3 linked regions of the Homo sapiens genome follow. The protein of the gene in region 1 purifies or fractionates together with the protein of each later gene. This does not show direct contact. Each region holds a gene or a part of one and is shown on either strand. Other genes may lie near its edges.

What was found. The genes of interacting proteins can lie anywhere in the genome.
Region 2: the proteins of THEM4 (region 1) and HELB fractionate together in Homo sapiens (co-fractionation; one large-scale study listed by BioGRID). This does not show direct contact.
Region 3: the proteins of THEM4 (region 1) and FAHD2A fractionate together in Homo sapiens (co-fractionation; one large-scale study listed by BioGRID). This does not show direct contact.

Annotation. Positions count from the first base shown.
Region 1 is NC_000001.11:151,902,240-151,907,395, reverse strand, and holds part of THEM4 (acyl-coenzyme A thioesterase THEM4), read left to right. Parts: intron 1-5,156. UniProt on the Homo sapiens protein: Has acyl-CoA thioesterase activity towards medium and long-chain (C14 to C18) fatty acyl-CoA substrates, and probably plays a role in mitochondrial fatty acid metabolism. Plays a role in the apoptotic process, possibly via its regulation of AKT1 activity.
Region 2 is NC_000012.12:66,301,027-66,305,292, forward strand, and holds the start of HELB (DNA helicase B), read left to right. Parts: upstream 1-1,466; 5' UTR 1,467-1,577; coding exon 1,578-1,764; intron 1,765-3,704; coding exon 3,705-4,124; intron 4,125-4,266.
Region 3 is NC_000002.12:95,409,208-95,412,707, forward strand, and holds part of FAHD2A (oxaloacetate tautomerase FAHD2A, mitochondrial), read left to right. Parts: intron 1-1,319; coding exon 1,320-1,379; intron 1,380-1,656; coding exon 1,657-1,819; intron 1,820-3,226; coding exon 3,227-3,335; exon of another isoform or gene 3,336-3,469; coding exon 3,470-3,500. UniProt on the Homo sapiens protein: Tautomerase that converts enol-oxaloacetate, a strong inhibitor of succinate dehydrogenase, to the physiological keto form of oxaloacetate. It is thereby required to maximize aerobic respiration efficiency by preventing succinate dehydrogenase inhibition.

The DNA.
Region 1 (5,156 bases):
AGGATTACATACTGTGTCGGAATTGATGGGTTCTTGGTCTCACTGACTTCAAGAAAGAAGCCACGGACCCTCGTGGTGAGTGTTATAGTTCTTAAAGGCGGCATGTCCGGCGTTTGTTCCTTCTGATGTTCGGATGTGTTCAGAGTTTCTTCCTTCTGGTGGGTTCATGGTCTTGCTGGCTCAAGAGTGAAATTGCGGACCTTCGTGGTGAGTGTTATAGCTCTTAAGGCAGCACGTCTGGAGTTGTTCGTTCCTCCCGGTGGGTTTGTGGTCTCGTTGGCTTCAGGAGTGAAGCTGCAGACCTTCGCGGTGAGTGTTACAGCTCATAAAGGCAGTGTGGACCCAAAGAGTGAGCAGCAGCAAGATTTATTGCAAAGAGCGAAAGAACAAAGCTTCCACAGTGTGGAAGGGGACCCGAGCGGGTTGCCACTGCTGGCTTGGGCAGCCTGCTTTTATTCTCTTATCTGGCCCCACCCACATCCTGCTGATTGGTAGAGCCAAGTGGTCTGTTTTGACAGGGCCCTGATTGGTGCATTTACAATCCCTGAGCTAGACACAAAGGTTCTCCACGTCCACACCAGATTAGCTAGATACAGAGTGTCAACACAAAGGTTCTCCCAGTCCCCACCAGAGTAGCTAGATACAGAGTGTCGATTGGTGCATTCACAACCCCTGAGCTAGACATAGGGTGCTGATTGGTGTGTTTATAAACCTTGAGCTAGATACAGAGTGCCGATTGGTGTATTTACAGTCCTTTAGCTAGACATAAAGGTTCTCCAAGTTCCCACTAGACTCAGGAGCCCAGCTGGCTTCACCCAGTGGATCTCGCACTGGGGCTGCAGGTGGAACTGCCTGCCAGTCCCACGCTGTGTGCCCACACTCCTCAGCCCTTGGGTGCTCGATGGGACTGGGCGCCGTGGAGCAGGGGGCAGCACTCATCAGGGAGGCTCGGGCCGTGCAGGAGCCCACGGAGGGCGTGGGAGGCTCAGGCATGGCAGGCTGCAGGTCCCGAGCCCTGCCCCGCCAGAAGGCAGGTAAGGCCCAGTGAGAAATCGAGCGCAGCGCCAGTGGGCCGGCACTGCTGGGGGACCCAGTACACCCTCTGCAGCCACTGGCCCGGGTGCTAAGCCCCTCATTGCGTGGGGCCGGCAGGGCCGGCTGGCTGCTCCGAGTGCAGGGCCCGCCAAGCCCACACCCACCTGGAACTCCAGCTGGTCCACAAGCACCCCGCGCAGCCCTGGTTCCTGCTCGCGCCTCTCCCTCCACACCTTCCTGCAAGCTGAGGGAGCCGGCTCTGGCCTTGGCCAGCCCAGAAAGGCGCTCCCACAGTGCAGCAGTGGGCTGAAGGGCTCCTGAAGTGCCGCCAAAGTGGGAGCCCAGGCAGAGGAGGCGCCGAGAGGGAGCGAGGGCTGTGAGGACTTCCAGCACACTGTCACCTCTCACTATGACCCTTGCTTATGCAGCCCAGGTGGCTGTTATCTAGGCTTGCTCAAAAGAGCCTTGCAAGTGCTTATCTCATAATCTTCACTATGGTGCCCAGACGGCCGCAGCCTAGGCCTACTCAGGCATGTCTTATAACCTTCACTGTGCTGTTTAGATAAAACAGAATACTTGAAGTTACTAGTTACAGAAAACAGGAATCTATAAACTCATAAAACTTGCAGAGCAAGGTACAATCACACGGAAGGGGATGGGATTCAAGGGGGAACTTTACTTTTTCTTATCCTTTTGTTGAGGGAGTGCTGGAAGAGTCTCCAGAGCACATCCTTTGAGCCCTGGTTTCTTTGAGAATGTTATCAAGACTACACCCGGGTCAGGGCTTTGCCTGTTACTGCCTTTGGGATGAGTCAGCCTCATATAGAAAGCTTGTTTTTCACTTTTTAAATTTTATTTTGCTTTCTTCAATTTCCTGCCTCACTTCCTCAGGCCCCATATTTGAGCGCCAAACACAGTTAGGGTGAGAGTGAGACTCTGTCTCAAAAAAAAAAAGGACTTTCTTCTCAATTCATCTAAGTTCTTGTCACACAATCAGGAAAGATCAGTCTTGTGGACACAGAAGGGTGAGAATAATGGAATTTATTGGGCAAAAAAGGAAAAAGAGAAAAACCTCAGCAGAGGAAGAGGGAGCTGCTCCTACCCTGCCACACAGGAACTCAAGAGGCCAGGCTCCTTGCGTCTGCCAATGGCATGAACTTCTGTGGCTCCACCCTGTTCTCCCAGTCAAAGGCTGGTGGGAGGTTCTCTGGGGAGCTCTTTTTACTTCGCTGTCTTACCACTTTATAAATGTGTAACCAAAGCTCAAGCAAGACCTTTCCTCTGTTCAGGACAACAAAATATAATCGTTGTCCCTAACATTTCTACTTCATTTATAATCTATGCTTTGTCTTTACTTCAGGTATCTCTTAGTTTTCACCTCCTTGAACTGAAACCTTTATTATTTCTATTTCTACATTATTATAGTGTCCATCTGGAGTAACAAATTCAACCCCTGCCAAACTAAAATTAATAGTTACACTCCTGTTTTCTCTCTCCTGATCCACATGTGCACACTAAGAAAAACCTTTCTTTTCATTCTATTCACCCTAGTTTTCAAAGCCACAGCTCTAGATAATCATTCAAGACTCTTCTGCTTTCTCTTTCCCAGTCAGTAACTCCCCACATCCCTCAGTCCCAATGTCCTAAATATCTTAAAACTTTACTTTTCATTACTCAGTACCTAGTTCAGATTCTGACCATATCTGACCTGGGCCTTTGCAACAGTCTTTTAACTGGTTTCCCTACCATTGCATTTCACCATTTTAATTCATTCGTTACACCAGATGGAGCTTTCTAAAACCTATGTTCATATTACTCCCTTGCTTAAAACTCCTTAAGTCTCCTCATAAAGGAAAAACGTGCTGTATCATTCAAGTGCTTTCATGATTCTTTAAAGACGCCACTTCTTTAGTTAACTTAATCCTATGTAATAACATTGGTGAAATCACGTGTGAGTTTTCTACTTATGTCCTTTTATAATATATGAATATATTTTGTTATATTTTAAAATACATATATTTTTGTCCTTGTGCCACCTAAAATCATTTTTCATGCTGGTCTTTGGAAATACTGACCTAGAAGTTGAAATCTAAGCCCTATGGTGTGATCCCTCTAGTTCTTCACATCTTGCTGCTCTTCTCTTTCCACCTTACATATATGAAGGCTGAAACCCTAGCAGTTCCCCAATGTGATACGTTTATTTCAATCTCCTATGCCTTCGCTTGGAGCAGGCCCCCTCCCCATTCTCTCCTTAATGAACTTTTTATCCGTAGGAAATCACTCCATCATTTCAAAGTTTTCCCTGAAAGTCATCCGTTCTATGCCTGTATCTATTTCTCTTGTAGTATTTTTCACATCCAAGGCTGCTAACACTTGAAGGCAGGGTCTAAGTCTTCTCTCTGTTTTACCTGTCCCTCACATAGAACCAGGGCATGTAGTAGGACTCAAAAAAAGTTTCTTGGATTTAACGGAATCCCAGACTTTAAAAGTTAAAATCAGGAGAACCCACAGTTAAGGGAGTCATTCTAATTCCTAAAAGTATTTAATTAGCTCTGTATCCATAAAAGGACAGTGGAACTGATGGATCCTAGTGTTACTTGTTTAAGATGAGACCAGTGGCTAATGAGATGAGTTCAAATTCATAACTCCAAAGCTTATACATACTATTCTGCCTCTCAGTTGACATGTTTTGGTCAATACATAGTAATCTGTGATGAATTGTCTTGTTGGGTTACTTCTAGATTCATGTCCTTTAAAAGTTACATAATCAGGACTGGATTCTAAGGAAATAATCCAAAATAGAGGAAAAGCTATATTCATAATGTTCCAGTGGACATTTTCATTTAGAGCAGCAAAAGATTGGAAATAATTTAAATATCTACCTTAATGGCTAATTATATAGTATATCAGTTTAATGGACTATTTTTCTGCTATTGAAAATGGTGGTAACTGATATTACGGAGAAAGTGAACACTAAATAATTTCAAGTGGTAAATGTAGAAAGCAAAATTGTGGGATTTTTAAAATTTTGTTTGTTTTTGTTTTTACTGAGATTACAAGTATATTAGGAAAAATTATATTTAAAAAATTTGGAGGAAAGAAAATTTGCCATTAATTATATTAAGAGGGAGAGATGGGTGGGTTTAAAACTTTTTCTTTTCTTTCTTTCCCAAATTTTCTGAGCTGGGTTCTGGAAGGATGAACCAATTAAAAAATATATATATATGGAAAAAGATTACAAATCCTGGGCTAAGGGCAAAGTGGTTTCAACCCTGATCATGTATCCCCAACCCTCTGATACTCCAAAGTCAGGACTTCCTTTTTTTCAGCCAGGACGTTTTTATTCTGTAGAGTTTTTTGTTTGTTTGTTTTTGAGACAGAATCTCACTCTGTTGCCCGGACTGGAGTGCAGTGGTGCAGTCTTGGCTCACTGCAACCTCCACCTCCCTGGTTCAAGCAACTCTTGTTCCTCAGCCTCCCAAGTAGCTGAGACCACAGGCACACACCATCTCGCATGGCTAATTTTTGTATTTTTTGTAGAGATAGGGTTTCACCATGTTGGCCAGGCTGGTCTCAAACTCCTGACCTCAAGTGATCCACCCGCCTTGGCACCCCCAAAGTTCTGGGACTGCAGGTGTGCCACCACGCCTCAGCTTCCATAGAGTTTAGTTTTGATCTGTTTTGTTTAATTTTTATTTTTTAATTTTATTTTTCCATAAGTTATTCAGGTACAGGTGGTATTTGGTTACATGAGTAAGTTCTTTACACTAGTGATTTGTGAGATATTGGTGCACCCATCACCTGAGCATTATACACTGCACCATATTTATAGTCTTTTATCCCTTATCCCCCTCCCATTCTTCCCCCCAAGTCCCCAAAGTCCATTGTATCATTCTTATGCCTTTGCGTCCTCATAGCTTAGCTCTCCCATATAATTGAGAACATACAATGTTTGGTTTTCCATTCCTGAGTTACTTCACTTAGAATAATAGTCTCCAGTCTCATCCAGGTCACTGGGAATTTGGGTTGGTTCCACGATTTTGTGTTGGGCATTTGGGTTGGTTCCATGATTTGCAATTGGGGATGATGCTGCTATAAACATGCATGTGCAAGTATCTTTT
Region 2 (4,266 bases), on another chromosome or scaffold:
CAGTTTAGATATGCTGAGTCTTAAGTAGCCAAGGGGCATCCAGTAGTGACTGACAGTGTTTAGGCAGTTGTTTGTATGGTTTGGAGATCAGATTAGGCTGAGTCATTAGCATGTAGGTGAAGGATGATTGAGGAAAGGATTATAGAGCAAGAAGATGCTTGGGATGGAGCCTTGGGGAATAACAGTACTTACAGGCAAGCAGAGGGGTCCAAGACTGTAAATAGCCAGAAAGGAGAAAAATCTGAGAAGGCAAGCTGCAAAAGCCCCGGCAGCAGAATGCTACAAGAAGAAAATACTTATCAGTATCAAATACTGCTGAGAGGTCAGGTAAAACAAAGGCTGAAAAGTATCCACTGGTTTTTGAAACGAAGAGGACAGTAAGTGTGACATTTGTCAGAGGAGATTCAATGTTGTGGTGGAAACAGTAGCCATGTGAATGTCAAAGGAATTCAACCTCATATAGCCAATCCTTGGAAACACTGGTGTTTTGTCAGCTGCAACAGTATTTCTTTTAAAAGCAACAAAAGTGGGCATTTTTCAATTGGTACCCAAAGGAAAAGAAATCAATTTTTATATTTTCTCCTATACATTTTTCTTAAATATTTGGTGCTAGTTGTCGTTTATATATATTTAAATATAGCATCAGGTGCTTTTGGATTTAGTAAATAGTGTGTGTTTAGTTATTTCAGGAATAATCCCAAAATAAACAGTATCAATACAGTAATGTAGTAATATATTTATGGTATTTCTTAAATAGTACCAAGACTTTCAAGTACCATCCTCATCAAGTAAGAGAATCATAGCCCCATAATAGTTTTTAAAACCACGTTCCTTTCTCTTCTATTTCCCTTCTCCTATTCCTGTCTATACTCTGGGCTGCAAAGAGACACTTTTGCCCCACTGTCAGCAGGTAGCAGCCCAGCTTAAATAAGTTTGGGAGACCAGGGTGTACTCACAGAGGAAAGGATAAAAATAACTTTGAATGTTATCTAATCCAGTGGTGTCCAAACCTAGCTGAGCATCAAAATGGACAGCCCGGAATGTACATTAAAAAGACAGAATTCTAGGTCCCTGCCCTAGATCCGATTCCAGAAGGGCATCTGCTATACTTTCGTTTTGGGAAGGTTGGGGTGGGGGTTGCTTTTCCAGGTTCTTCAAGCTCAGCAGAAGTGGACTTTCTCCCCGTTCTCTCTCCGCAGGAGATGCCGTGCACTGGCGGTTCTGCAGGTGCCACGCCTGTCACTCCCCAGCGCTGATTTCGTCCCAGCACCTTCCTGATAATCACCGCCCAGCACCAGGCTCCAAAAGGAGCGGAAGCCCCGCCCATCTCCCAGCCCCTCGCTCTCCCTTCCCCGCCCCTAACCCGCCTTGCCCCGCCCCTTCCACATGCCCTCCCCTCGGCAATTCCTGGAAACTTGGGGCGGAGCTTCGCTGCCTTTCAGGTTTTATGTACGCTGGCGGCCGCCAGGCCGTTCCCGGAAGTTGATGGCCTTACAGTCGTAGAACTGATTGGCTGATCATGACCATGCAGTTAGCCAGGGTTTTCCCGAGTTGTTTGGGTTGAGTTCAGGAGAAGCATGGCCAGGTCGAGTCCGTACCTGCGCCAACTTCAGGGACCTCTGCTCCCACCCAGGGATCTGGTGGAGGAGGACGACGACTACCTAAACGACGACGTGGAGGAGGATGAAGAGTCCGTGTTCATCGACGCCGAGGAGCTCTGCAGTGGGGGCGTAAAGGCTGGCAGCCTCCCCGGGTGCCTCCGCGGTGAGGAAGGCGTCTGCCCGGGGGATGGGGTTGGAGGGTCCAAAGTAGCGCTTCCCATTCTGGCTTTGCCCTGAGCAAGGCACCCAGTCGTGCTAACAGATTTAGCTTATCAGTGGTCTAGCTGCTTCATCCTACCAAGGGTAAAATTATGACTATAATAATAGCAGTGACTTTAACTGGACACATACTATGTGGTTTTTTTTTTTTTTTCTTTTTTTGAGCAGCAGCAAGATTTATTGCAAAGAGCGAAAGAACAAAGCTTCTACAGTGTGGAAGGGGACCCGAGCGGGTTGCCCTTTTTTTTTTTTTTTTTTTTTAAAATTATTCTCATTTTAATGGTCGTCCTTTAATTTAATGTACCTTTAATGTAAGGTAGTTTTACGCTTAAGGAAACAGTGGATGTTGAGTCTCTATTTCCACCCAGAATCGGAACTTTTATTTTTCCTTCTGACCACTTATCCTCAAGTTCTATAGAATGAGAACTTGTAATTATTATCCTATATTGCCTGGAGTCAAATACGTGGTTCTTCCTCAGCTTCTTGGAAAAACAAAACAGTCCGGGCGCGGTGGCTCACGCACTTTGGGAGGCCGAGGCAGGTGGATCACTTGAGGTCAGGAGTTCGAGACCAGCCTGACCAACATGGTGAAACCTGTCTCTAGTAAAACAACAACAACAACAACAAAACTACAAAATTAGCCGGGCGTGATGTCGCACACCTGTAATCCTAGCTACTTGGGAGGCCGAGGCAGGAGAATTGCTTGAACCCAGGAGGTGGGGGTTGCAGTGAGCTGAGATCACACCATTGCACTCCGGCCTGGGCAACAAGAATGAAACTCCATCTCAAAAAACGAAAAGGAAAGAAAAGAAAAAGAAAAACGAAACACAAGGAACACCTCAGTGCACAGATGATTGTTAATTGGTGTTAGTAACCTTGTGGTTCGGGTAAACCTTGTATAAGTAGTTTCCTGTGCTATGAGGTAGTTTCCTGTGCTATAAGTTATACCTGTTATGTATACTTTGTGACTGAGACTTAAAATATTTTAATGTGCCGACCGGTGCTGTTCAGTAGAACTTTCCATGATCATGGCAGTGTTTTATATCTGCACTGTCTGGTATAATAGCCACTAGCCATATGTAGCTGTTTAGAACTTGAAATCCAGCTAGTGTAACTGAGGAGAGAAATTTTAAGTTTTATTACATTTTAATTTAAATAGCCACGTGGGTGGACAGCGCAGATTTAGGCAGAAAAGTTTCAAGTATTTGTGGAGGGCTTAGTCGTCATTCTAAAGTATCATCAACTGGCTAGCATGTTTGGTGCTGGGAAAACCTAGAGAAATAAAATAACAAGGTTGCAGTCTTAATGAAGCTTACCCTCTAGTGTATTAAACAAACATTCTTTAATCACAGAAGTAACTATAATGTTACTAAATGCTTAGAAGGAATGCTAAATAGTGCTTTGAGAGGTTTTATACATGAGATTCAGGGAAGACTTTTCTAAGTAAGTGATAGTTAAGCTGAGGTCTGTAGTAAATGTAGTAAACAGTAAAGGGGAGATCAGTTAAGGCAGATGGAATAACTTGAGTGAAGGGCCATGGCATTTTAAAGAAACTGCATGAAGGCCAGTATTGGCTGAAGTCAAGAGTAGCAGAGAGGGGACTGATTTTAGAAGAGGAACAGCAGACACCTGCTGTGTACTGTGCTTGCGTTTTGGAATACAAAGACAAACGAAACAGTGTCCTGTTTTAGTATTTACAGTGTAGTGGAGGGAGACAGAAAAAGAGGTAGGCAGAATGCAGTGTTACAGGCACCCTACCAGACATCTTTAGAGAGTGCTGTAGGGAGATTAAAGATAGTGGTAAGTTTGATGAAACTTTGAGGAAACGGTTTCTAAATAATCTCCAGAGTTAACTTTTGTGGGTTTTTGTTTGTTTTTTTTTAGTTTCTATTTGTGATGAAAACACACAAGAGACATGTAAAGTGTTTGGACGTTTTCCGATAACAGGTGCTTGGTGGAGAGTGAAGGTACAAGTAAAGCCTGTGGTGGGATCAAGGAGCTATCAATATCAAGTTCAAGGATTTCCGTCTTACTTTTTGCAGTCTGATATGTCACCACCAAATCAAAAACATATCTGTGCTCTCTTTCTTAAAGAGTGTGAGGTCTCCAGTGATGATGTTAATAAATTTTTAACATGGGTAAAGGAGGTATCAAACTACAAAAACCTAAACTTTGAAAATCTTAGGGAAACACTAAGAACTTTCCACAAGGAAACTGGAAGGAAAGATCAAAAGCAGCCTACACAGAATGGTCAGGAAGAGTTGTTCCTAGACAATGAGATGAGTCTTCCTCTGGAAAACACAAGTAAGTGTGATTTTTATCATCAACTTTCAGTGTAATTGACATACTTAATAACTACAGTGTTTAAAATGTTACCACTAGCATAGTATTCTTTTTAAAAATCCATTTGGTGAAAAATGTGTTTATGTTGCTTTTGGAGTATGCC
Region 3 (3,500 bases), on another chromosome or scaffold:
GGTGGTAGTTTGAGATCACATAACTATCTTATTGCCCCATAGCATCTCATCCAGGGATCCTGTGGTCATCCTGACTGAATCTATTATTGCACTGGGGGTTAGAGAACAATGACCTTTTTTTTTTTTGAGACAGAGTCTCACTCTATTGTGCAGATGGAGTGCAGTGGCATAATTTCAGCACACCTCTGCCTCCTGGGTTCAAGTGATTCTCCTGCCTCAGCCTCCTGAGTAGCTGGGATTATAGGCGTGTACCACCACACCTGGCTAATTTTTGTATGTTTAGTAGAGACGGGGTTTCATCATGTTGGCTAGGCTGGTCTTGAACTCCTCACCTGAGGTGATCCACCTGACTTGGCCTCCCACAGTGCTGGGATTACAGACGTGACCCACCACTCCCAGACAAGATCAATGACTTCTCAATCATGCCTTCTGTTTTTATTGGCTGGCATTCTTCTATGAAGAAAAGCTGCCTCCCTCCTTTTTATTCCTGTCTTCAATATCACTGTGAATTCTGTTTTTACTCAATTGTTTGTAATTCATCATTTACATTCTTTAGGTGACCTCAGTTTGGCCAGTGAGGGGCCTTCAAGTTGGCTCCATTCCCGTCACTTTTAGTATATCCTAGCTTTCTGGCCAAGATGTTCTAGGCTTATCATGTACTGTCTGTCTTGGAACTGGAATTGGCCGTTTCCCCAAGGAACCCAGTGCTCCTTAGTGGGGAGTGGTATTAGAGACCAACATCTGGATGTCGGGTGTACTTACACCAACTCTGGTTATTATTAGAAAGAGCCACCAATTTTAAAGGCCAAATTATATCTATTTTATAGTGTATTTTATGGATTATGGGAGAGGCTGAGCATTTCTTCATGTTTTGTGGCCATGTCCGTTACCTTTTTGTGAATTGCTTACTCAAGTCCTTTGTGGGAGTTAATAGATTAAAACACTTAGAACAGTGCCTGACACACAGTAGGGTTACATATTGCTAGGGGATATTACTTCGTATTTATCCTTTGTTAAAAGTATCCAGAGTGACTTTTAAACTCAGTGCCCTGGACACGTGTTGCTCTTCTGCAGTCAGTGGTGTGGGGACCTGTGCCTGCATCCCATGATGCTGTCTGCCACTGCCCAAAATGTATGGGTCTACAAGTCACACCTCCCTTGTCATTCACTGGGCTCTGGTTCGTGGTGATGGCAAACATGGGATGGCAGCGAAGCCATACTGACAAAGGTTGAGGCCCTTCAGCATGGTGTGCAGCCTCTCAGCATGGACAGTGGGCCCTGAAGCCACTGCAGCTCACTGTTCCTCTCCCACCCTACAGGAGGTAGATTGGGAAGTGGAGCTGGCCGTGGTCATTGGAAAGAAAGGCAAGCACATCAAGGTGAGGTGGAAAGGGTGGGCTCCCAGTCCAGAGTGCAGCAGAGGCCCCAGCTCCTGCCTCTCCTAGTTCTGACCCCACTCACCAACACACGGTGCCAGCTGTCCCTGACACTAGGAAGCAGTCAGCCTCCTTGCTCCCTGACACTGCCTTTCCCTTCACCCACCTTTGGCTGGCTCTGGCTACTAACATGGGATAACAGCTTAGAGATCCCTTGCCATAGGTGTTGGTGTCACCCATGATCTAACCTCCTGTATGGCCAAATCCCCTGCCCCCATAGGCCACAGATGCTATGGCCCACGTGGCCGGCTTCACTGTGGCTCATGACGTGAGTGCTCGTGACTGGCAAATGAGACGTAATGGGAAACAATGGCTGCTGGGAAAAACCTTCGACACCTTCTGCCCTCTGGGCCCTGCCTTGGTGACCAAGGACAGTGTAGCAGGTAGGTCCCTGGTCCCTGCCCCCTTATACCTACCATTGCACAGATGAACAGCGCTTCAGGGAGGAGCATGGGTTCAGGTACATGTGGCACCTGCCCTCCCTGGCCGCCCTTTCACTGCTGACTCCATACAGGGCAAGTCTCTTATCCTCAGCCACGAGTTCTCCCATGGGCTTCCTTCCCAAGCCCCCTAGAGGGAACACAACTGCAGAGGATGTGAAACTGCATGCGTGAAGTAAATTACAAAGAACACTGAGCTGATGGGTGGATCGGGCTTCCTGCGGCTGCCACCTCTGAAACAATCTAAGTTGAGCATCATGGAGCATAGTTATCCCAAGGCCAAGGCATTTTCCACACTACAGGAGATGAAAGCCAGTGTGACTCACCCAGCCACTGTGGAAATAGAACAGCACTGACCACACACAGTCAGGATACAGCGCCAGGATGGGGGCAGTGCCCCAGAGGGCAGAGCGCAGCCTCTTACACAGCCACCCACAACTGTGGTGGAGGTGGGGGGTGTCCACATGGGCCAGCCATGCCAGGATACCAAAGACCCCAGTGCCTCAGCACCCCATGCAGAGTCCTCAGCAAAGTTAAATTGTGTTTCAGCTGCTCTACTTAAGGGGGGTAGAACACTAGGACCACCACCAACAGTAAAAAGTGCTGGTTAGCCAGGATGTTCTTACAGTAATCCATCCCCTGCCAGCATCCAGTACACGAGGCTTCTCTGTCCCGGCTAGAACCATTGCCTCACTGCTTTATAGATGCTGAGTCTTTTTTTTGCCATGGTCTTACTGTGTCACCCAGGCTGGAGTGCAGTGGCCCAATCCCAGCTCACTGAAGCCTCAACCTCCTGAGTTCAAGCAGTTCTCCCGCCTCAGCCTCCTGAGTAGCTGGGACTACAGGCACGCACCACCACGCCTGACTAATGTTTTTATTATTTTTTGTAGAGACAAGCACTCACTAAGTTACCCAGGCTGATTTTGAACTCCTGAGCTTAATCAGTTCTCGCCTGCCTTGGCCTCCCAAAGTGCTATGATTACAGACATGAGCCACCACGCTTGGCCCTGCTGAGTCAATCTACAGGTGTCATCCTATGCTGTAGACAGATGCCCTTATTTTTTTCAAGGCAAAAACCCTAGCCATTTTTCTCTTCCCCTTCAGAGTCTGAAACATCCTCTCAACCCATCCCTGTTACTACTGCTTGGTGCTCTTGGTGGGGATGCGGGGAGGCCTGAGAAGGCCAATGTCTATACAGAAAGTTCTAACATAGAGCACTGAGTCAATGTGGGCACTTTGAAGCCCTTTCACCTGCCAAGTCACGAAGCACCCCTACAGTTGTGTTTGTAAAATATTGGGGGGTTTGAGGGGGAAAAGGGATAACTCCAAGGTACCATCTTTGCATTTCAGATCCACACAACTTAAAGATCTGCTGCCGAGTGAATGGGGAAGTGGTCCAGAGCGGCAACACCAACCAGATGGTATTCAAGACAGAGGACCTGATAGCCTGGGTCTCCCAGTGAGTGACAGGGGCTGTCCTGCCAGCCCCGCTTCACCTGCCACACATGTGGAGGCTGACCTGAGCCCTCCATCTTTGGCTGTGGCCACCTCAGCCAGCCCCTGGTCTCACCGGGTCCTTCTGCTTTGATCCAGGTTTGTTACCTTTTACCCAGGGGATGTCATC